Regions from separate parts of the Homo sapiens genome. Here region 1 is linked to region 2. Evidence: fine-mapped expression QTL. A gene starts in region 2. The other region holds a variant in brackets. All regions are shown on one strand. Distances are from middle to middle.

Region 1 (8,000 bases), 330 kb before region 2:
TCCTGTGGGTCTCTCTGTACCTGCACCTCTGGCCCTGTAGTGCCCACAGCCGGGGAGGTGGCCTCGGGCTATGTAGCCCTCACGGGGAGGTCCTGTCTTCAGCCCCGTCAGGATGACGAGGATTCGGCTGCACTGACTCCCGGCTAATCACTGTGGATGATGCTGCCCGCTCCCCCTTTCCCTGCAGAGCCCTGAGCTCTGTTCTTCCTGGGAAGAGTGAGGGTCCTGGCAGCACCCCCTCACTGTAGCCAAGCGTGCTGCTCCAAGTGAGCCCCAGGTCTCCGGAGCCGGGAGCCAGCCTTGGCCTGCGTGAGCTTTCATGCTTCTGAACCAGAGCCTGGCCCAGGGGTGAAAGCCCAGAGAGTCTTTTTTTGCTTTAAATGAGCAGCTGGGGCTGCCCCTTTGTTCTCTCTCCTGGAGTGAGGAGTGGCTGGGTCAGAGCCGGCCTTTGGTGATGTGGGTCTTTCTGTACCTGTGGCTCTGGCCGTCTGGCACACAGCTGGGGAGGCAGCCTCGGGCTTTGTGGCCTGCAGACCTCACAGACGGAAGGGCCTCCCGTCTTCAGTCAGAGACTGTTTTTTCCCTGCAGTGAAAGAGTTTCTGCAGTTAACTCTCAGGGCTTTGCTTTGATATGGCAAGCGCTTAGTCAGGGAATGGAGTGGCAGCTCCAAGTTCCGGAAGCTTCTCACAGCCCTTCTAATCCCCTAGCCGGCAGCCACCCACACTTGGCTGTCTGCTGGCTGACTGGTTTTCCAATCCCCGCCATGGTGTTTCTCCCTTCCAGCTCCGGCAGGCGTGATTCCGGGGCACACCCACTGCTCTCAAAGCCCCTGAGCCAGTGCCTGGGTTAGACTTTTCCCAGGGGCGTCTGCTCCTCATCCTCTTGGGCTTTGTGCTTGGGTTGACTGGCAGCTCGGGGAGACTGGAGTGGCCGGCTGGATCTGAGTCCTGTAGGCCAGTCCTGGCATGTGTAGACACTCAGTGTCCCTGTGGCCCAGGAGCAAGCCTGGCAGGTGACCCGAGGGAGGGCGGGCCCAGCCTGGTCACAGAAGCAGTGCTGTGCCCGTCCCGGCCCCCTGCAGGGGTCCAGGGTCCTGAGCTGAGAGCCTCAGGAATCTGGGGAATTTGCTAAGATGTGTGAGTGGCTCCTCCTCTGTTTTGGGCACCTCCCTGGAGGCTGGCACCACCAGGGGCTGGTGTGGAGACCCAAGGGTGGAGGGCAGGGCAGGTGCTCACCATGCCGCTGGGCCGTGTGGGTGCCTGGGTGGACGTGGCACTGGTTCTTTGTGCGGGTGGAGGACAGCTGTCCAGTCTGCCTCACCGACAGCTGTGGTTTGCAGTGTCCTGTGACTGCACTCCTGAGCACACCCCTCCACCCCCTTGCTGCTGACAGCTGCCTATGGCCCAGGCCCTCTCGCTCCCCCACCCGAGGCTGGGCGCACAGAGCTGGGCTGAGCCTGGGTCTATGCTGGCCAACGGGAGAGGCAGATGGGAGGAGCAGGCCAGAGTCCCAGTGACCTGGGGTCCTGGTACAACGTGTACACCTGGGCAGGTGGCTCTAGCACTGTGTGCCAGAACCGTCTGTATGAAAAGAGGGTCACGTAGCTGCCCTTTGGCCTGGCTGTGCAGGGAGGCTAAGGTCTAATCACCCTGTAGAGAGTTGTCGGCTCTTCAGGACGGTGCCCTGTCTTCAGTGAGGGGGGCTGTCATTGCAGTGAGCGGGGCCGCAGCCCTCCCCAGCAGAGAGCACTGCACTTCCTTTGTGTGGTCAGACCCGCATGTCCAGCCTGTCTATCTGGGGCCCTGAGCCTGTTGTGTTTCTTGTCCAACTGCTCTGTGGCCCTGCCACGGAACACCTGAGCCAGGCTGTTTTGCTCAGCCCTTTCCCATCTCTGGAGGCCTCTGGTGTGTTTTTGTCCTTTGAAGAGGCCGCTGTGTACCCGCTGGTGCCCACAGCATGCTTGTTTGTGATCACAGGGCGTGTGTGTACCTGCTGGGCGCACTGGGCCTGTCCTCTGCCAGCTGCCCGGCATCCCCAGGTGCCCGGGAGAGTGGCAGGAGCTCCCTGTTGGGCCAGCCTCAGAATGAGGATGTTAGCTGGCAGGGGGCATTGTCCCTGCCTGAAACTGTGGGCTGGATTTTGGTCACTGAGTCACTGAATTAAGGTGTGGCCTGGAAACTTCCCATAGCTGTTGGCTGCAGTGCACGCCTCGTTGTCCAGAGTGAGGCAGGTGTTCTGAATGCCCACCTGGGAGAGCTGGGGCCTGGGGCCCCCACAGGTCAGGTGGTGCCCCTCCTGTCCCCGCAGGTGTCGGCCTCCCTCTTAGAGGCACTGAGTGGCTCCCTCCGTGTGTGCGGCATCTCTGCGTCTCTGAAACGTGGGGCCCTGTGCAGAAGGGAAGGTCCTTGGTCATGTGAACCCCAAGGGGACTTCGGGGCTGTCCCCAGTGGCTCCCGTTGGCCAAAGTGGCTCGGAAGCACCATCTCATGTCACTCACCTGGTAGGGCCTCCTGCTCTCTGTGAGGCCAGGCTGTGTCACGGCCCCTCTGGGCTCAGGCGGCTCCATGCACAGTGCACCCAGGGGCCCATGTGTCCCAGCCTCCTCCTGCAGGTGGAGGCCGCAGCCTCCCTTTGGGCCAGTGACTGTGACAGCAGTGTATGGGCATGACACCTGCTTTCAGGCCCTCACGGCAGGGCCTTGCCTTGTAGGCTGCCAAGTCTTCCTGACAGACACCATTTGAAGGCCTTAATTAGATCAACCTTACATCCCCGAGGGGGCCTGACACGGAGGTCCCTGGTTGGTCCCGGACCTCCAGCACAGCGGCGCCTGCAGATGAGAGGGAAGCGAGATGCCCCTGGCCCAAGCCCAGCCTGGGGGCTTCCCTTCCAGAGCCCAACCGCTTGCTCCGACCTGCCTGTACCTCCCTTCCCCCCCACACTATTCCTCCCTCCCTACAGTAGGACTCCGGCAGGGGTGCTCCAGAGACAGCCACCTGAAGAAGCCACCAGGATGCTTGGGAAGGACGCTGCCCTGGGCCCTGCCTCCCGCCCCATGGGGATCTTTCAGGCCCCCACCGCCTGTTCGCAGAGGCGCGTGCTCCTGCTGAACTCTGTGGGGACCCTCCAGCACCTGAGCAGGGGAAGGGGGCGGGGGGGCCTCATGGTGGGCGGGTGGAGGGCCTTGTTCCCCTCTGGCTGTGGCTGGGGATGGCCCAGCCCTGCCCGCCTGCCAACAGCTTTGCGGTGCAGGCTGAGCTCTGCAGGGAGATTAGCAGCCGTCCTGATTGGATTGGCCGTGTTGCAGCCGCGGCAGCCAAGTGTGGGCCCCTGGTCTGGCTGCTCGTGGTTTGATCCTGAGCCGTTTCCTGCTGGTGATCAGTAGCTCCGAGCGTCACCCACAGAGGGGCTGCTGGAGTCTCACTCAGCAAGAGGCTCTGAGGCCCGGCCAGGTGTCCTCTGCCGGCGTTGCTGCTGCTCCCTTTGGCCCAGCATCGCAGCGGGGAGGCACCCTCCCTGAGCGCTCACGCCACAGCGTCAGGCCTCAGCCGGCCAGAGCAGGGAGGACAGCTGGTCTCTCCCCTGAGATGCCGGGGCTGCCTGTCCCCCGGTTGGGGCACAGCTGATGGCACCTGCCGTCCCTCGGTACTGTCACCAGTGCTCC[C/G]TAGGGAGGGAAAGAGAGGAGCCGCTCAGCCTTCCTCCTCAAGCCAGGAGCTGCTGAGGTGCTGGCTGCCTCCGATGTGGCCCCACACAGTGTTGGCCGCAGGCCGAGGGGCCTGGGGGCACAGGTGCCGGCTCAGGAGCCTCTGTGGGCAGGTGTCTGCATCTCTGGGGTCCTGGGGGACGTGGGTCCCATGCACTTTGGGTGGTGCCAGTTGGCAGAAGGGTGGGCACGTCAGGCCTGGCAGACACTGGTCGCAGCCACGCAGGGAGATGACGGCCGGTGCTCTCAGGGCGGCCTCTGCTCCTGTTTGCATCTTGTAGGGTTTGGAGCGAGTCAGTGGCTGAGAAACTCTCTCCCAGGAGCAATGTTCCCTCCTGGTCAATAATCAGTGAGCACAGATAGGCGAGGCTGGTTAGGAGCAGACCACGCCCATGGCAGGGGTCTCCCCCTCGGGCACGCGTGAGGAACTGGAGGTCTGAATGGCTTCTGTCCCCTGCAGAGCAGCTGTCTGAGGGGGTCTGTCCCCGGAGGCCAGGACCCTGGTCAGTGCCATCCGGGTCACGGGTGTTCTTTTGGCCCCAGCTGTAGGAGGGCAGCGATGCAGGGCCCAAACCAGAAGCCGCTCCTGAATCCCTGACCCCAGGATCAGTGTGAAACAAAGCCCACGACCCAAGGACCCCGCAGTCAGCAGCCGCACAGACGGAGCCAGCACTGGAGCCCGTCTCAGGTGGCTCCGCTCTTGTGTCCCCTGTCCCCGCTTCCCTGCCCTGGGGAGGGTGCCCCCAAGCCTGGTACTGCAGAGAAGGCCACCTCGGTGGCTCCTTGGTTGTGACATGAAGTCCTGCGGGAGGGCCTGGGGGGACTCCGGTCCCAGGGAGGTGTCTTTCTCAGGATGGGGGGCCATATCTGGTTGCCAGTGTCTCTGTCCAGCCTTGCGTTCCTGGCTGTGGGAGGTGCCAGTGGGTTCCCTTGCCCACAGTGTCTGTGACCGTTGTCCCAGACATGCTCCTGTGTGCCCGCTGCCGAGCTCCAGCTGCTCCAGGCTCCTCCACTCCCCAGTCACACATTTGACGACTTGTCTGGCACTGGGCCCCGTAGAAACAGACAGGACAGGGTCTCAGCAGCCCCAGGGGTGATCCCGGTGGCAGGGGCTGGGCTTAGAAGGATGCGCTGGGTCCTCCGGCTGTCCCCACTGTGCTTGTTTGTTTAAACGTCTGAAGGGCAAACGGCAGAGCATCAACTTCTGGTAGCTCCGAATGGTGGGTCCACGGGCATTCGTGACGGTCTCCTAGGTACAGTTTATACATTGGAAGCATTTTTGTAATTGTTACCAGCAGTCACATGCAGGCGGTCACATCACTGCAGGGCCAACTGGACTGTGTCCCGGGCAGAGACTGAACACGTGCACACACCCAGCCAGAGCACGCACGCGGGCACAGATAGTCCTGGATCCAAGTACCGAGGGGCGGCGCTCATGCCATCTCCATGGAGTGCTGGAGGGGTGACAGGGAGAGTGGCCCCTGGCAAGGTGGTCAGAGAGGCTGGGGAGTGGTCCACGGGGCGGCCGGTCTGAACTGCCCACCTGGCTTCTCGGCGGCCCCCGCTCATGCCATGGGACTCTGGGCAGCTGGGGTCCAGGGCTGGCTTCAAGGACGCCTGCTGGGAGTTCTCGAGTCTGTTCCCTGCCTCTGCAGTAGCCCCTTCCTTTTCGGGAGGTGTAGTCTGCGAGGCCCCTGGAAAAGCCTGGCGGGGGGCGTGGTTCTCCATCCATGGCAGCTCCCTCTGCCCACTCGGGGGACTCTCCCCCGCCAGGACTGTCCACTCACGAGCTCAGTCTGGCCAGTACGTTCCTAGGCAAGGTTCAGTTCGCCTCCCAGCCTTCCTCGGTGGACACCTCTGGTCTCGCCGGTCACGTGGGAGCCATGCCCAGGGCACCTTGGGAGGATGCTGTGCCGTGGGACCTGAACAGGCAGCAGAGGTGACCAGGGTCTTTGGAGATGCACTTGTTGTACCCAGGAAGATTGGAGGGTTTTTTGTTTTCTTGGTTTTTTGTTGTTGTTGTTGTCTTTTCCCCCTTTTTGGAGACAGAGTCTCACTCTGTCACTCAGGCTAGAGTGTGGTGGCGCAGTCATACATAGCTCATTGCAGCCTCCTGGGCTCAAGCGATCCTCCCACCTCAGCTTCTGAGTAGCCAGGACTACAGGTGTGTGCTGTCACGCCTGTATACTTTCTAAACTTTTTGTAGAGACAAGAGCTTGCTTTGTTGCCCAGGCTGGTCTCGAACTCCTGGACTCAAGTGATCCTCCTATCTCGGCCTCCCAAAGTGCTGGGATTACAGGCGCGAGCCACCGTGCCTGGCCAGAGGTTGGTCTTGCAAGGCAAATTTGCCCATGAAGAAAGGAACAGGCCCTGCTCCAAGCTGTGGCCTGGGTCTGCCCTCCACACTGAGCGGACGTCCAGGCAGCCTTCGGGCTGGGTATTGAATGTGCTCTGCCGGGCAACCTTGGTCACTTGTGGCCAAAAGGGAGGTGGAAATGTGGAAAGAAACCCCTCTGCCCCGTCAGACCTTAAACCTCCTTGCGGACACTGGGCAAAGGAAGAGGCAAAAGGTGCTTTGGAGGGAGGAGAGAGGCACAGGGAGGGTTGCTGCAGAGGGGTTCCTAGTGGACGCGGGGGCAGGAGAAGGCCCTGGCGTGCCTGTCCCGCTGCAGCTGTGGGAGCTGGGCTTGGCCAGGTCGCTCAACCCGTGGGGAGAAGGTGTCGGGTTAGCTCAGCCCCCGCAGAGCCTCATCTCCACCCCTGTGTGTCACGTAGGGGCCCTCTGCAGCCTCCACTCCAGCCACCCCGGGTGGATGGCCGCTGACCCGGGAGCCCCCGTCTGCCTGGGACGCTGGGAGTGTGTGAGCAGATTTGGTGCCAGAGGCCCGGGCAGGCCTGAGGGTCCTTGATCCCAGCGTGATGGTGCGTTGCTGGTCCAGGGCCCATCCTTGGAGCCGGCGGGTTGGAGTGGTGGCTCAGGACAGTGGGGGTGGATGACAGAAGGCAGCCTCGGCCTCTGCTCTCCCTCCACCCCCATGTCCAAGATCTGAATGCTGACCCAGCCTTGACACCAAGGTGGCTCTTTGGACTTGCTTGGTTTCAGAACTGTGTGTGGGGAAGCAGCGTCAGCTACCGTCATCACCATGGCAACACAGACATTGATTTTTTTTTTTTCCCCCATTGGTTACCCGCTGGCCACATTCCATTTTTGCCTTTTTTGTAGGTGGGAGAAGAACTCTGCTTCTCCCAAGGAGAAGCTGGTGGCTGGAGGGCAGCAGAGAGAAGGGGCGGGATTGGGAGTCACCCCCGAGGTGGCGTCCTTGGGCTTTGGGTCAGCACTGGATCTGGTCCCCTGGCCCCTGTGGGGGCTCTGATAGCAAGATGTCCTGTCAGCCCCCTGGCCATCTGTCCTTCCCCGTGATGAGGGCGCTCTGTTCGAGCCCTGCCCAGGTGGGTGGTGATGAGCTCTCGAGGTGCCTTTGGGCTCTGGAAGCCACCAGGATAATTGAGAGTTGTGGATAGCTACTTCAGAAGGCTCTGGAAGGTGATGCATGCTCACAGCCAGCTTGGAGCAGCTGACCTCTCGCACAGAGCCCCTCTTCCACCAGCAGAGAAAGGAGAAGAGTTCCAGTGCCTCCGGAAGCAACAGAAATATCCAGGAAACGAGTGTTTCTGTGCCCTCAGTGTCCACTGGCCAAAAAGAGCACCCTGACCACTCGGTAGCAGCGCCCGTCCGTCCCTGAGCCTCTGTTTGAGGGACTCACGTCCAGCTCCCGGCAGACTCAGCGCGGGGGTCGGATGCCTTCTCCGCACCATCCCGCACCGCCACGAGCTGCTGTGGCTCACATTCTGCCATCCGAGCTCTGTCCAGGAGGCAGCCGAGAATTGGAGCAGTTCCCACGCCAAGTAGGGCCTTGTGGGTGGCCGGTCCCCTCCTCCAGCGTGGCACGGAGGCGCCGGAGCATGCAGGTCTATGCCTCTGCAGAGTCTGGGGCATCTTGTTCCATTTCCTTGCTGCCTCTCCTCTCGTCCGTGATCATCCCCCCCTCCCCCTCTGCTTCCGGCCTCCCCGGCCTTCCCAGTCTCTTGGGCCATCATCGTGGTTGTGTTGGTCCTGTTGCTCCTCCTTCGAGCGCCCACGTAGGGCTGGGGTTCCCTGCGGGCTGTGGGTGCCGTGCCCTCCCCGGCTGGCTCCAGCCCTCAGAAGCTTGGGGAGGGTGGGCTGGGCCATCTGCATTCCACCTGCCCAAGGGCTGCCACTCCCTTTTCCCAGATGGCTGGAGTGCCCCAGGGCAGCGT
Region 2 (15,308 bases):
CCAGAAGTCGCAGGGGAGAGACAGTCTGTCCCCTCTGGTCCAGCCCAGGGAGGGCCTGCAGCCTCCCCATGGGAGCCATGGCCAAGGGGGAGAAAGGTCTCCAGGGCTGGAGGGCAGGTGGGCGGTGGGGCTCATCTCAGGGGCAGGGCGTGGGGGTTTGTGGGCCAGGACCCACCCAAGGGCTGGGTCTGGGAGGTGCTTGGGGAGCCCAGGGCGACCTGGTGTGTGCCCTGCGGGATGCCCCGAGGGCTCCTGCTTGTGTTGCCAGCACCTGCCCTTGGGAGCCGTCAGCTGGGGCCACGATGCTGGCAGGGTGAGGCCTGGCAGGGTCTGGGGCTTTTGGAGGGTGGGGGCTAAGGGAACCCCTGGTGGAAGCTGCCTTCAGGGTTCCTGCCTGCCTTGAGGATGGGTGATAAGGGGCTGGGCCCTGCCCTCCTGCTGCCTGGGCTCTGTAACTGATGCTCAGAGGACCGGGTGGAGTTGGGTGGGAGACCTAAATGCTCCACGGTCCTGTAGGTCTCAGCTGGCCTGGCCCCGCCACCCAGCCCACACCCTTCCCCTAGGGCCCTCTCACCAGTGTGAGAATAGGCCTGGGGAAGTCTGGGCCCGGGAGGCCCCCGACCCCCACTGTCCAGACACCCTGACAGCGACACGTGTAAACACCGCCAAACAGTGGAGACAGGCAGCCCTGCCGCCCCTCCGCCTCTGCAGCCAGGCCTGGTCTGGCAGGGAGTGGAGGCAGGTGTCCTTGCAGGGAGGGCCCGAAGCCAGGCTCTGCCTTGGAGGATGCTCCGGAAGGACCACATAAGCAGTGCCCTCGTTTGGATTGGTCCTGCCTGAGCATTGTCCCCAAGCAGGGCAGTTTCAGCCACTAGGCCCTCCCAACCCCCATCTGTCTGATCTGGGCTTTCTCTCCCGGGTCTGGCTTCCTGTCCTCATCCTCATGGGCAGGAAGACGGAGGGCTGTTTCGGGTCAACCTCCTGTAAGGAAAACCGATTACTCTTTATTCCAGCAGATCCCCAAAGCGCATCCCTTGGCCCAGAGATTCCCAGAGAACCCTGCCCCTCCAGGTCCACCCCCAGACTGGCTGCCTGGGGGGAAGGAGCCGGCCTTTAGGGAAGGCAGCCTGGCATGGTGGAGGTTCCCTGGGCTCCTGGGCCTTTCTCCAGCCCTCCAGCCGCAGAGGTGACAGTGACCAGGGGGCTGGAGGGGCAGCAGGACAATGGTGAGTGGAGGGGGGCTGGGAGGCTCCCTCCTCAGCCTGGGGGTCCCTGGCAACTCCCACCTTCCTTGATCCCCTCTAATAATTGCAACAATAACACTGTCACTAATAAAAAGGCAGGGGAAACCAGGCAAAGGGGCGCTTCTGCCCTTTATGAAAATCACTTTAATTTAACCCAGATGGGTCTTGTTGATAACCTCATACAATGAGCACCCTGAATTATACTTTCCGTGAGAACACACTAGTTATATTTAGCCACAAATTACGACTCTGTGTTTAACAAGCAACTTTGAGAGTGGGGAGGGGGCCGGGCAGCCTCCTGACCTGGTTGGACAAAACCGGCAACTGCAGCAATGGAGACCCCCTCGCTGGAGGGGACGCCGAGAAAGCCGTGCCACGGGCTTCTGAGTCTCTCTTCTCTGCTGCTCTAGTTTCTTTAAAACACTTACAACCTCGTCCGAGGTCTGTCGAGGAGACTGTGGCCTTCAGGTACAACCTGAGCCTCCCCCAGGATCCCTGGGACTTCTGCCTTCCCACACCCCCAACCTGGCTCCCTGCTTGGGCTGGAGCCGGGGACCTTCTGGGAGAGCCCAGTTCGACAGGCTGGGGGGCTGGGGGCCGTGTGTGCCTGGAGGACAATCCTCCTACCCAGGTCTGGCCCCTGACAAGTCTTGCTCCTCTGTGGCCTGCCTCAGCCCCCTTACCCTGGGCCTCAGCCCAGGCCTGGTCGGGAGGGGGCAGGCGCTGGGGACGAGGGTGAGGGCACTCCCTCCATGCAGCCCCCTCCCCTGCCACCTCATCCCCTGGGTCCTGATAAATAATGAAGGGGCTGTGACTGGAAGCTTCGTTTTCAGTGGGGGCAGCCCCCTTCCCTTCGGAACCTTCGCCGTCCTCTTCCCCTCCACAACAGTTCTGCTCCTAGGAAGGGTAAGCCTCCAAAGGCAGAAGCTGTGGCAGAGAAAAGGCTGTCCCCCCACTCCAAGGCACGGACCCTGGGGCTTCCCGATCCTCCCCAGAGCCAGAGGCCACACCGCTGAGCAGGGGAGGTGAGGGGGGAACACACAGACCTTTCCCCCACACCCTGTTCCCTCCAGGCACCAGGCAAGGCCCTCATGAAAAGAACTCGCCCCAGTCGATAGCAGAGGGACCCGTACAGGCAGATGGGTGGGGTGGGGGGTCAGGACCTCTTCCAGGAGGGAGTGGGATTGTTCCTAACCCCCTGCCCCCAGCTGTCCTCTGGAACACTGATTCTGGGGTGGGGGTGAGCTGCTGCTGCCCTCCAGTTGAGGGAGGTCTCTGTGCTGTGAACCATCTTAGATCCCCCACCTCTACCCCACCTCTACCCCGCCTACCCCTCCTGCCGCCAGCCCCAGCCTCAGGCCTGGCCTCTGGACTTGTCCCCCTGCGCCTCTGGTGGGAAGAATTAAGAGTCAATTTTTGTCGTCAAGAAATTGTTTCTAATTTGCCCTTTGACTAATGGCCCAGGGAACAATGGAGAGATACCCAACACACGATTATTGGGGGCGCAGCGGGCGCAGCGCGGCTGCTCTCGGGCCGAAGCAGGCATTTATTTGGAGCAGCGGCTAATTCACAATTTCATGGAACTTGCCTGACACCCCCACCCCCTTGTATTAAAAAATGATTATTTATATGATGATTTCAGACAGAGCAGCATCTCAGAGGTTTGGGAGCCGGGAGACCTACATCTGCTGCTCTTGGGGAGCGTGGGGGTGGGAGAGGAGTGCTGGAGGGGGCTCCAGGGCTGGGCCCGGTTGTGGGGGAACAGGGGCCCCTAGGCTGAAAGGGAGAAGGCAGTTCTCGGGAGTGCTTCTGCGTGTGTGATATGCCTCTGCACACATGTCTTGTGCATGTGGGAGTGTCACATGCTGCACGAGGCTCACCTGTCTGCCCATCTGTGCTGTGGGTTTGGTTTTGTGTACACTTCCAAGTGATTCACATGTGGGCACATGAGTGTGTGCAGGCAGATGTGTGGGCACACATTCAAGACTGTGCACAAGTGTGTGTGTGAATATAGTGTGCGTTAAAGGGTGATGTGAGCCGGCCTGCTAGGTGTAGGAGCGCAGCTGGTTATGTGGGGCGGGGGGTTATCTGCTCCCCAGGCCAGAGGGCAAATCTGGAGTGGTGTATGCCAGGCCCATGGAAGTGACTCCAGATCCTGCTGGAGAGGGATCAAGGTGGGGTTCAAGGCCACTCCTGGCACTGTTCCAGGCCCCACTGGGTGTCCACAGGCCTAGCCTCACTTGCAGCCCGCTCACCTGCAAAGCTGCAGGAACTTCAGAGACCTGGGCCCTCCAGCATCAACACTGACCTCGGGTCTATTATCCCCTCTCCTTTCCTCCCCCTCTGTCCCCTCGCTGGCCCTCTCCCCAGTGGAAGGCAAGTCTGCAGATCCCCACACCATGTTCCTCTGAAATTAAAAACATTTGTTAGCTCTGGACAGCAGGAAGAGTAAAAAAGGAAAGTAGGGAGGTTTCCTCTGAGCAGATCGCCAGCCTGAGCTCCCGGCGGCCCAAGTCTTCCAGGGGAACTCGGGAGCTTATTTTGGTATTGCGGGAGCTGCCCAGCGGCCAGGCGCCTGTGCTGGGCAGCTGCCAGCCCCTCTCCACCGCGTCCAGCAGACCCGTCTGCAGTTATTTGCTGTAACAACTGTTTTGAAACAGTATTGAAAAAAAAAAAGCCCACTAGAATTTGCTTCAAGTGAACACTGGGGGAGGAGGAGGCAGAAGTGGGGAGGAAGGAGGAGGGCAGGGAGCTTCCGCACTGCCCTGGAAGGCGCACTCGACGCCTCGGGGCCTTTGCCCACGCGAGCAGCCTCTTTCGGGGACACGAAGGGACCAGCACTTGGGGGATTTGAAGCCAGTGCTCATCCTAGGAATCTGGTGAGGCTGAGCCAGAAGGGTCTAAACCAGCTTGAGGAGATAGGGGCCACGCACCCGCGAGCTACCCTCTGCCCTCCCATGTCCCTGGCAGTGGGCATTTCTCAAATGGTGATTGATGACTGGGGATGGGGGTGGGCAAGCCGAGGGCCCATCATTCAGGCTCCAGGACCCTCGAACAATCTGCCCACGGGGGAGGGGAGGCTGGTTTAGGGGCTCTGAGGGGCCTTTCCAGCGGCTGTCCTTCCAACACACTCTAGAGGAGACCAGGACTCCCAGGGGCTTGGGGCCTCCCGTTCCCCCACAGGGCGGTTAGAGGTGGAGCACCTGCCCTGATGCGAGGAGCTCAGAGCAACTTCTGGGACACCACGGGTGGCCACGGTGTTCTTTTTGTTGCATCCAAGATTTTTCTCGTATACGTATTTTCCTATATTAAAAAATTCAAATGAGGCTTTAAAAATTAACTTGAAAAAGGTTCCTGATCCGGAAACAGGCTCATCGGAGGCAGTGATGGGAACTCGGTTCCTTAGGAGAGTAGGAAATGCGCCGTCTGCGAGGGGCGCCCTGCGTGGACCCGGGGCCTCGGGGCGCGTCCACTTACCCGAGCCAGGAGAGACTGGGCCCCACGGTGTTAGCCCCGCGCTCGGGCTCGCGCGCCGCTTCCAGCTCGCGCCTCCTCCATCCCCGGAGGGCTCCGCGGGTCCCCGGCGACGGGTCCCTGCCCAGGGTCCGGGAACCTTCCCCTCCCCTCCTTTCTCAAGCGCCATTTCTCCGGAGCCGGGCCGGCCGTCCTCGGTGTACGCGGGAAGCGGGCAGCCTCCGCCTGCACCCGCGGGGCCGGGACCCGGAGGCACCCGCTTCCCCGACACACTCGCTGGGGCCGCTGCTCGCTGCTCCAGCCTCCCGAGGCCACGGCAAGAGCCCGGGGGTCGGCGCCACACACCCCCAGCCGGCGACCGCGCCCAGGGACCTAATTCAATCGCCCCCAGCCTAATGAATAGCCGCGCGCTAATCGGATCTCCGCGCGCTTCGGGGATTTACGCTTCCCGGCTCTCCCCCTCGTGCCCCGCGGCCCGCCAGACGTCGCTTCCGAAGGCGCCGGCCTGGGGCCTGGCCAGGGGCTCGGCCGCGGGGGGTCCCGGCCGCCGGAGCCGGGAGACGCCGGAGACGGGAGCCGGGCCCGCGCGACCGCCACTCCCGAGCCAGCCGGGGTGGGCCCCGCGCCTTGTCCTGCGTCCCCGGCCCGGCCCGCGGAGCGCCGGTGCTTACCTGCGAGCCCCGGGCTCTCCGGAGCTCCCCTCCGGGCCGAGCCGCCCGAAGCGGGCGCCGGCGTAGGCCCCGACTCAGGCAGGCGGGAAATCCCGGAGTCCCCGCCCGCGGCCCGCAGCCCCCCACCCCAGGTCGGCGTGGCCTGCGGGGGGGAAGGCCGGCCGGGGCCGGCCGCCCGCTTCCCCTTTCTCTCCAGATTCCTTTGATCCGCGGGCTCTCCGCCGCACCTCGGCTCCCGGGCTGCCCCGGTCGGCCCGCGGGGATCCTGGAAACGGTCCCCAGCTTATCTCCTTTCATCAAGCGGCCTTGGGCCGCCTTGAAACCGCGGAGCCAGTAATTGCTTTTTTCAGGAGGCCCAGTGCGGACTGGACAACAGCCAATCAGCGCCTTGTTTACACTCGGTGATGGACAGTCCACTGGCGGAGTGCCAACCAATCCCAGCGGTCCCGCGGGAGCGGGAGTGGGGGCGGGGAAACAGAGAGACAACAGGCTTTGAGTTTAACTCTTTCGTGTCCCTGCCGGAATGAGACGGTGGAGAATTTCGAATGCGTGTGAATCTGTCAGTTGGCTCCTAGTTTAAATATCCTTTTTTCCCCCAGAGGGGGAGGCAGAGATTCACATGGAGAAAGAGGAGCAAAAATAAATGTATCCATCGCCACTAAGACATCACCTCGACTCCCTGAGAATAAATAGCATTTGGGTGGGAAACCAAATTCTAACAGAAATATTTGTTTGCGGAATATTTTAGAAGTGGTTTGCATCTGATTACGATAAAAATTGTTCAGTGGCTTGCTTTAGTTGGAGTGAGGATTTAGCAGATAGGCAGACAGGGAGCAGCATTGAGAAATACTATACATGGTTTACCACACCATACCCGCTTCCCCCATTACCAAACTGAAAATATTTTCTAAATCTAGGTGTAGATGAAGAAAGGGCAATCCTTGTCTTCTCAATAAATCCCTGATTTTCATTTTAGTAGCTGCTCTGTTGCAAAGTGTGGCAGAGGGAGATAAAATTGAGAGCCAGTAATGTAGACGGCTGGAGACTCAGAACTCACTTCCCAGGGTCTGATCCCCAGGTCATGGGGAGGAGAGAGCCGGACGGGCTATTCAAAGCTTTTGCTGCCCAAGCAGCGGGCGTGCGTGCGTGCATCCGCGAGCTCGGGTCCGGGCAGGCAGCAGCTTCAGAGCGGTAGATGGGCCAGGCAACCTGGGGAGGCCTCTGGGCTTGGAGGTCTGGCCTACCTGCCACCTGCCAGACAGATTCCAGGGAGAAAAAGCAGCTACTTTTAAGGGGTGGTGGTGTTTCTTCCCTTGGCCTTCTGTGCGGCAGAAGCCAAACGTTAGACCTGCTGGATTAAACATATATGTGTGTGTGTGTGTCTGTGTCTGTGTCTACGCCTCCCCCTCCGCCGGGACACGCGCACTCGCTCGCTCCAGCTCCCTCTCCCGCCCTGCGCCACCACATTCCCATTCAGCAGCAATGATCTGCGCAGAGGAGCTGCGCAGTCGCCGGGCTTGAATTAGGCGCCATCGGGCTTGGTAGTAGCCCCGCTGCTTCCTGATTGGCAGTTCCCTGGCCCGGCGCCAGCCTATTGGGAGGCCTGTTTACGCCGAATGAGTGGCACGAGCTCCCGGCCGTGGAGGGCTGCGCGGCCAATCAGCGCGCTGGCTGTTCCGGGCTGAGTGGCACGAGCTTATTAGTATGCAGGGCCCGTGGCTCGCCGCGCCAGGCTGCAGGTTTGAGAGCCGCTCTGGATGGGCTCGCTAGAGTCGTTGTTGTGGAAGCGGTGCATTTACAGTGCAACAGTCAGCACATTGAAAATACCAATAGGAATACAAAACAAAGTCACATTTACTGATTTAATTGTATTGCATTCAGTTGTATCCAGGAAACAGCCTCCAGTAAGTAACTGAAATTGCTTTCATTTTTTTTTTGTTTTTGTATTTTTATTATTATTTTATTTTTTATTCTGGCTTTGGGGTTTTACATTTTTTTTAGCAAAAGAAATTCAGGATTGTGATGTTAAGAAGTATATATCTTCCCTTTTAACAAAATCCGTTAAAATGTTGAGGCTTTTTTTTTTCTTAAAAAATATGGACTATGAGCGATTTTTTTTTCTCTGAAAAATCTTATCGATCGGTTTAAAATTACCCCCGTAATGCATCCTTGCTTTGCTCTGAGCGCTTGTTGTCTCGATCGACACCCAGCATTAAAAACAAATACTCGAAGACAGGACAGGGACCGCCAGGCTGCGTCTGGCGCGAGCCGCGCGGGTGGCACCGGGCGGACAGTAGGCGAAGTCCGGGCGCCGCCAGCGTGCGCCCAGTTCTGGGTGACCCACGAACGAACCCCAACATTCGCTCCCCTACCCTGCTCCCCTCCCCGGAACAGTCCTGGGTTGGCCCTGCCCGGTCGGTCCGCGGCGAGGGGAACTGGCCGGGTCGTGGTACCCACGGCCGCTGCCCTGAGGGGCCTTCCGGGCCGAAGCTAGGGGCCGGGGAGGGGAATGGTCATGGCGAGTTTTTCGGGTCTTCGTTCCCAATTCAGAATTTTTTTTTTCCGGAGAAGTGGGGGTGGAGGAGGGGGACCGAGCAAGGCCGGCGCAGCGGGGCGTTTTCACCGCGCGCGTTCGGGACGGCGCGCGGGGCTCGGGTCACGGCCCGTGTGGCGGGGTCCGCGGGCTGGTTTTCTTCGGGCGCGGGGGTCAGGCGCGACCCCAGTTCTCATGACTCTCCCAGGGAGCGGGTGCGGCTGTTTCGCAGGGAGCGGGTTCTGCGGCGACGGCCGAGCCACTCGCGCCCCAAGGCGCGCCTGGTCCCAGCCCGGCCTGCAGGCCCCACCGCGCCCGCGCTCCCGGAGACGACGCCGGAGGGAGGCAGACGGGCCAGAGTCCTGGTCTCCGGCAGGCGGGCGAGGAGAGAGCGGGTTTTTAGATGCAAAAGCAGGAAACAAAGCAAACTTGTAGAAGCTCCAGATCCTGGAGCGCGCCAGCCACGCCTGGGGCCGCGGCAAGAGGGACCGGCGGCTCCAGGGTCACGCCCTGCCTTCCCGGGAGGGAGCCCTGTGCTCCTAGGTTCAGTTCCTTCCGAAATGCCCTCGTCAGCGATTCTCCGCCCGCCCGGGGCCCTCTGCCCGCCGCCACTTTTCGCTCCATTTCCTCCCTTACCTCAGCCCGACCTGGCGCTGCGGCGCCGTCCTCGCGGTCCTCCGGCGCGGCCTCTCCTGGAGCTGGGCTGGGAGTGGGCCCCGGGCCTCGGCACTCGGCGGGTGGCGGCGTCGCCGCTGCGGGACTGTGGGACTCCCAGCTCGGGCCGTGTGGCCGCCCTTCCTCGCCCCACTTCCTGGCCGCCTCAGGCTCCCCAGGCCCCCGAAGCCCGGCGCGGGCAGACGCGGAGGCGCGGCGCGGCCTCTCCCCGGGAGGAGAGAACACAAAGAAAAGCTCTCTCCAATCCGGTCAGAGCCGTGGCGGCGCAGGCAGGCGACAGTAATCCACCTCCTGTTTGCTTAAAAAGTCGAGCAGGCTGGTGAGAAAGGAACAATCGGGCCTGCGATCCGCCCGCAGGGGGTGGGAGATTAAAATTGTTGCTTCGTAGCCGAGCCCGCGTCCCGAGAATCGCCGGCAGCTCGCGCTTTCTCAACTTTGAAATTTCTTATTGGAGAGAAAAAAAAAAAAAAAAACAACCACAAAACAAAAGCACAGCACACACGACTCCCTGGAGGCCGCCAGGAAGCCTGGCACCCCCGCGTGCGCAGCCCCCGGCCCCTCTCCGGCCTTCGGCGCCTTTGAAGCTGCAGGTTTCTGACCTCCCTCCCTTTCCTTCTTTCCCTTTGTCCCGCCCGGCGCCCTCCGGGGCTCGGGAGGCGCCGGCCGGGGCTGGGGGCCCCCACGTCCCTAGTCCAGCCCGGGCAGCCCCTCCCCTGACCCCTGCGCTCGCAGCCCCCTCGCCAGAGCACTCTCCGGGCCCTGGCGGCCGGGCGCTCGCTTTGCAGGCCGGGATCGGGGCTTGGGAGCCGAGCTATTTGTTAGACCCGGGGAGAGAGCTGGCGATCCCCAGAGGGAAGGGAGCCCCAAACGCCTTTGTATGTAGTTGCCAGACAAAGAGAACTCTTTGTGTAGACCCATTTATTTACAATGCAAAAGCTCTCCGAATAAATATTAAAAAAGCTTATCAGCTGAGCAAATATGTATTCACTTAATACATTATGTTTTCGGTTATAGATTAAATCAAACACAAAATAGTCTGCAAATAAGACGTTTTAGAACCCGGACCATAAAATATCGCAATTTAAAAAGGTATTCAGTAGATGGAAAACATCTTAATCGCTTTGTTGTCATGGTGGAATGGCTACAAAAACACAAGGTTTTCCGCAAAGTTCCTAATTAGGAATATCAAGCCTATCCATCTCCCTTTTGTTGGAGGTGATAAACATTAAAACAATACGTATTTAGAAGATGAGGAGTAATATGTGAAGTGCGTCCAGGGAGCGCCTTCGGAGGGACGCCTGGGAGCACGGTGGTGCACGCAGCTTCTATCACTGGCTCCGACCCTCCGCACCCAGAGTCTAAAATTGTCCCCAATTTCGCCTGAGTGGATGCTCCGCGTTGGGTGGGGGTGGAAGAAAATGGAGGTGAGGGTTATTTTAGGTGGCCGAGGTCCGGGCAGGGTCTGCTGGCAGAAGGTTGTGCTGGGCCGGGCCCACCTTCCCCGGCTAGAGGGCCGAGCTGGGCGCCGCAGACCCCGCGTACCCAGGCCGCCCGGTACTGCCCGGAGCGGAGACCGGCCTCTGCTCGCGGTCCCCGGCAGGCGCTGAAGGAAGAAATCCCAGGGCCGATTTGGGCCGTTGAGAGAGAGCATTCTGACTCTGAAAGCACCCCCCCCACACACACCCCCAAGCCCCCAATCCGCAGAGGAAGATCCTGGGCGAATTTGATTGGGGGGCGGGGTGATTGTTACAGCCTCAACAGGAAGCTCCCGGCTCCGGGACAGCAGGCCGGGCACTGCGGCGTGGCGGCCCAGGTGATGCCGGTGGCGGTTGCGGGCCTCCGGGGCTCTGAGGAGCCGGCCTGGGGTCCTAGCGCGATGCTGGGGACAGGAGCTGGTCCCGCTGGGGCTGGGGAGGGGGGACCACGGTGGATTCAGAAGAATGGGCCGAAAGATGCATGAGGGGGATGGGAGTGGGGAGAAAAGGAAGGTTATTAAAAAAAAAAAAAACTCTTGAGTTACAATCAATAAAATTACTCGCTTAATTAGCATGGTTATTCGGTTAAGCGGAATGCAGTAAAAGCTGGACCTCGGCATGAGGTGGGGAGAGGGGGAGAGCTAGTGTGGACCCCAGGCCTTTTCCTCCGAGACACCTTTGGGCAGCGGGGGAGGGGAGAGGGTGTGCGTGTGAGTGTGTGTGTGTGTGTGTGTGTGTGCGAGTGTGCGTGATGGCTTCGCAGATTTGGGTTTTTATCACCCAGCAGAGCCAGCAGCCTCTTCGCCGCGGCGCCCTAGCTGCAGGGACCCGCGGGGACGAGAACGGGAGGCGGCGAGCAGTGCGGCTGGGTTCCCCCGGCTGCCCCGGGCCAAGCGTGGCCGGGACGGTGCGTGCGCGCGCGGGGCCCCGGGTGCTGGGCTGCGCGCGCGTGCGGCGGGGAGACACCGAGCGCCCCGGCCCCGCCACCCGGCCTGGCCGCCGCTCGCTCGGGCCGGCGGGGGTGGGGGGTGGGGGGAGTGGGTGAGCGGGCGGGGCGGGGACCCCCGGGCGAGCCGAGCCCCCCAGTCACCCGTGTCTCCTCTGCTTTTGCCTCCACAGACCATGGACCCGCACAGCGGCCGCTGGCTCGGTGCGCGGCCGCCCGCCGAGAAGCCCAGTCCTCCCGCGTGCTGACCGGCCCCGCCGCCACCACCGCCTGTGACCCCGGACGCCGCCGCCTCTGCGCCGCCCGCGCGCCGAGCCGCCCCCGGGCCCCGGCCGCGCTGCTCCGAGGAAGCGGCGGCGGACCGGGGCCGGGGCCCGGCATGGATGGCCGCGACTTTGCGCCGCCGCCGCATCTGCTGTCGGAGCGCGGGAGCCTGGGCCACCGCAGCGCCGCTGCCGCCGCGCGTCTCGCCCCGGCTGGGCCCGCCGCGCAGCCCCCCGCACACTTCCAGCCGGGAAAGTACTTCCCGTCGCCGTTGCCCATGGCTTCGCACACAGGTCAGTGCTCGGCCGGGGCGGGCGCGGGACGGGAGCGTTCGAGAGCGGAACAGGGCGCCCACCCCTCCGCTCCCGGGAGCAGAGAAGCTTTGGTTTCATTTCCCGGCCCCGGCCGCGGTGGCTGCCTGGGCGCTGAGCGGGGCCGCGCGTCCCGCCAGCCCCCCAAGCTGCGTCGCCGCGGCTTAGAGAGGCCCTTCCCTGGCCACCCTCCCCCGGGGGTCTCGGAGGGGCAGCCCCGGAGCCGGCTGAAATTAAAGCCTTTCCGCGCCTCGCCACCCTCCCCCGCCCCCTCCTGCAGATCTAAATTCCACGGAAACCTCTTTTCTGCATTCTGCATTCACCTCCCTAAGACGTTCCGGGGCTGGGACAACGAGGCGCTTTCTGCGGAAACAAAACGGCTGTTGTGGCGGGGGGAGGGGACCAGGGTACGCCGCGGCCTCGCGGATTAGAGTGGTGTGTGCGCCGGGCGAGCGTTAATAGGGACTGCTGGTGTAAGACGAGCAAATCCTGTTTCTATATAAAGCCTTAAAGTGTCAGGGCGAGAATGGGTTTGCAGGGATGCATTTGCCTTAACGAGTGCCTCTGGTATCCCGCTAAAGCCGGACAAAGCGTGGCCAGAGTGCGGCCCAGCCTCTCAGCCTGCGGCCCGGGGAGGAGGGCAGCGCGGGCGCGGGCTGGGGGTGGCGCGGGGCGGCGCTCAGGATTTCGGTGCAGGCGAGAGTGCGGCGGATTTGCTCCAAGAGGAGAGCGAGGCGGATTTGCTCCAAGAGGAGAGCGTGGGGCGCCGTGCTGGGCCTCGCAGGGACGGATCCTCTCGGGCGGTCCCCTCTGACTCCCTGCCCGAGAGGATCAGTCCTTGGCAGAGCGGGCCCAGGCCTCCAGGGCAGCCCTCTTCCCGGTGGCTTTGATATGAGTGTCGAGGGAGGTCAGGGTAGGGGCAGCTACCACGCCTGAAGCCCTAGAGGTCACCAGGCGGCGCGGGTAGATTCGGGGGAAGCGCGCAGGGCTGCGCTAGGGACCCGCCGGGTCACCCTGGTACATGGGTGGCTTTTGTTTACAGTTTGTTCTAAACATCAGAAATGTTTGTCGCTTTTAAAAACAAAATTGGCAGTAACAGTTATTATTGGTAGCTTGATGAACTGTGAATACTAATAAAATTATATCTGCTTTAATGGGATTACAATTAGTGTGTGGATTAAAACGGATGGCAGAGACGGGGCTAGAAAGGAAAACGTCGGAAAAAGGGAGGGCACTCAAAGAAAAACGTACATTTTCTAGAAAAAAACAAACTTGAAATTGCTTAATTGCTAACGGGCTTCCAGCATTTGCAGCGCCAGGAGATTGGAATGGGGGAGCCGCCCAGTGGAGGGGTCTCCCCAGCACTTCCCGGGTTGGCCCACACCCGCTTCCCTCCCTGCCTGGGCCTTTGGCGAGGCTGCCCTTTTCTCTCTGTTGCCCTTCCTTCTTTTTCTCCCTTTCTTTTTTCTCCTCTAGATTTGTAACTGGAAAGAGAAGGAGAAAAAGCACTTGCCTGAGCGATGGGTGATTTAAAAATATCTCTTCTGCTGTCCCTGTGGTTATCAAGCTTGTCTTCCTGCCCCTGCATGGGAGCTGCTGCCCACCCGGCTCAGGTGCACGGGGCGCTGAGGCTGGGGCCGCCCTGGCAGAAGGGACAGCTCGCCAGCCTCCCCACCAGCCCCTCTTCTGGCTGAAGGCTGGTGGCCCCCACTGGGGGTAGGGGGATTGTGTGCACCCCACCTCCACTGTACCGTGCCCTCCAGCCTGGCAAGTAACAGCACGACAGAGACAGGGGCCCCTGACACTGAGGCTTGCATGTTGGTGCACAGGCAGGCTGGGGCTGTCCCCTCCGGGAGGCAAGGCCAAATTCCCCATCAGGTCAGGTCAGCACTCTCCCTGACCCCATGCCCCAGCTCACATCCTGGCCAGGTCCAGGCCAGCTGCATTCTCCCCCTTCTGCCCTTACTTCCAGGTCTAGGCAGCACCCGGGTAGGTGGGCGCCTGGTCGGGTGGCCTAGCCCTTTGTCTTGCTCATTCTAAGTTTGGCCACGTGGTTCTTGGCGTGTAGGCCCCGGAGGGCTGTGAGAAACGGCTCTGGGCTCTGGCCTGGCCTGTGTCCTCCCTGCTTCTTCTTGATCCCAGGTCCTCCCAGCCTCCCCAAGCGCAGGGTGCTCTAGAGGGCGCTGGAGGCCCCTCGGGGCTGCCTCTTTCAGGGTCTGAAGGGTCATGTGTCCCCGTCCCTGGAGGCCCCATTTCCTCCCCCCTGCGGACCGAAGAGAACGCTTGTGCTCGGAGATGTTCAACCCATTTGTGATGGGCAACTTGGTCATGCAGACATCCAGCTAGAAGCATCTGTAGCTGAAAGAAAGCCTTTTGAAATTGTTAAGAGCCAGAATATTGTATTGGTTTTTAAAATTTAGCTGCATGTATTTTTTTAAAAAAAGAATTATACCCCAGATCACTTTGCTTTGGTCTGTGTCTATATATGATCTAGTTTAGAGAGAAAAAAGCATAATTACGTTAAACAATTTTTTTGCGTCTTGTGTGCGGACTTCCACATGGCTGGTTTGGCTGCCTTGCTTCCCATTTTCCTGGATGGCTTCAGTCCGCAGGCCACAGCTGCAGCCAGCCCGCCCCTCCCTCTGCTGACTGCCCCTTGGAAAGGAAAATTGACCCGGATTCTTCCCGCCTGTCTGGGAGTAGAATCCAACCATCGGGGATGGAGGCCCTGGCCTCCATGAGGCTGCCTCTTTTTGCTGGGCTGCTCTTCCTGTGCCTGTCTGGCCTGGCACTGCCACCCCGGCTGGACTGAGGCTGTTCCTGCTGGCTGCCGGGGCTGCCTTTCCCCAACCCCACCCAACACTTTCAGAATGTCAGTCTGAGGGGCCCTGATGGGTGGGGACATGGGGCTCCCAGGCTTCTTCCATTGTTTTTCTAAAAATGAAAGTGCTGGGAGCTTTAGACTCGGGCCGCAGGTTTTATGGTAAAGTGCTGTTCCAGTAACCTTGTCACCAAAAGGTGCAATTAAAATGTTTGGAATCATTATTTTTAGTTCAGTGTTAGATTTTGTCTCTAATACAGATGGTCCGGAGGCAAAGCTGTGAAATCTAGGGGGGAGAAAAGAGAAATCAACAAGAACCAACCCAAGATTTTTCATCAGTGCTACTGCCTGGAGCCACTGGGGCTGGCGCCTCTGCTGGGAGTGTGTGTGTGATCCGAGGCAGCCCCGGCCTGGGGAGAGGCCCACATAGACAGCCCCCCGTCCTGGCTTCTGGCTGGGCCCGCTCCTGTCCTGGTCTGTACGCCTCCCCTCTCCAGGGGCCAGGGCTCCACCAAGGCACTATTTCTCATCTTGGTTTCAATAATCTGCTCAGATTCCCCTCCCGCCCCTTCTCTTGTCTTCTTTGGGGTGTAAATTGCTGAAGCCTGGGAAACCAGGTGCTCTGAGCCTGGGGTTATTGTGGGAGAAAGGCGAAGGCTCCTTCTGGTGGGAGAACTGCAAACTACTTCTTTCCTGCTGAAAAAGTGCTTCCTACCGCCAATCTCAAAAAAAAAAAAAGAAAAAGAAAATACCAAAAAACACAACCAAAAAATACCCCCAACTTGGCAGAGGAAAAAAAAAGATAATTTCCTAGTGTGAAAAGACCCCATCACAGGCTCCTCTCCCTCATCATGTGATATTTTTTTGTAAAGAAAAAAATACATTTTCTTAAAT

Which allele goes with the higher level. Alleles are on the strand shown, and positions count from the first base shown. SD is a standard deviation of normalised expression in the study named.
With allele C in place of G in region 1, the expression in anterior cingulate cortex of the gene that starts at base 7,115 in region 2 is lower (moderate effect, 0.70 SD a copy in GTEx).

What was found.
Region 1: its variant is fine-mapped to the expression of BAHCC1 in anterior cingulate cortex (GTEx, PIP above 0.99).

Annotation. Positions count from the first base shown.
Region 1 is chr17:81,064,237-81,072,236 of GRCh38, forward strand. All of the region lies in intron 3 of BAIAP2 (BAR/IMD domain containing adaptor protein 2), which reads left to right. Among named protein-coding and RNA genes, the nearest start is that of BAIAP2, 33 kb to the left of the region's middle. RefSeq lists an enhancer at 308-914. The variant C/G (reference allele first, on the strand shown) is at 3,663.
Region 2 is chr17:81,388,343-81,403,650 of GRCh38, forward strand. BAHCC1 (BAH domain and coiled-coil containing 1) reads left to right here and starts at 7,115. Exons shown (of 28, transcript NM_001377448.1): 1 at 7,115-7,293; 2 at 11,192-11,575. The coding sequence starts at 11,398. MIR4740 (microRNA 4740) reads right to left here and starts at 12,436; the gene lies at 12,374-12,436. RefSeq lists enhancers at 1-160, 161-720, 5,212-5,769, 7,853-8,461, 8,462-9,070 and 4 more and a silencer at 5,558-5,827.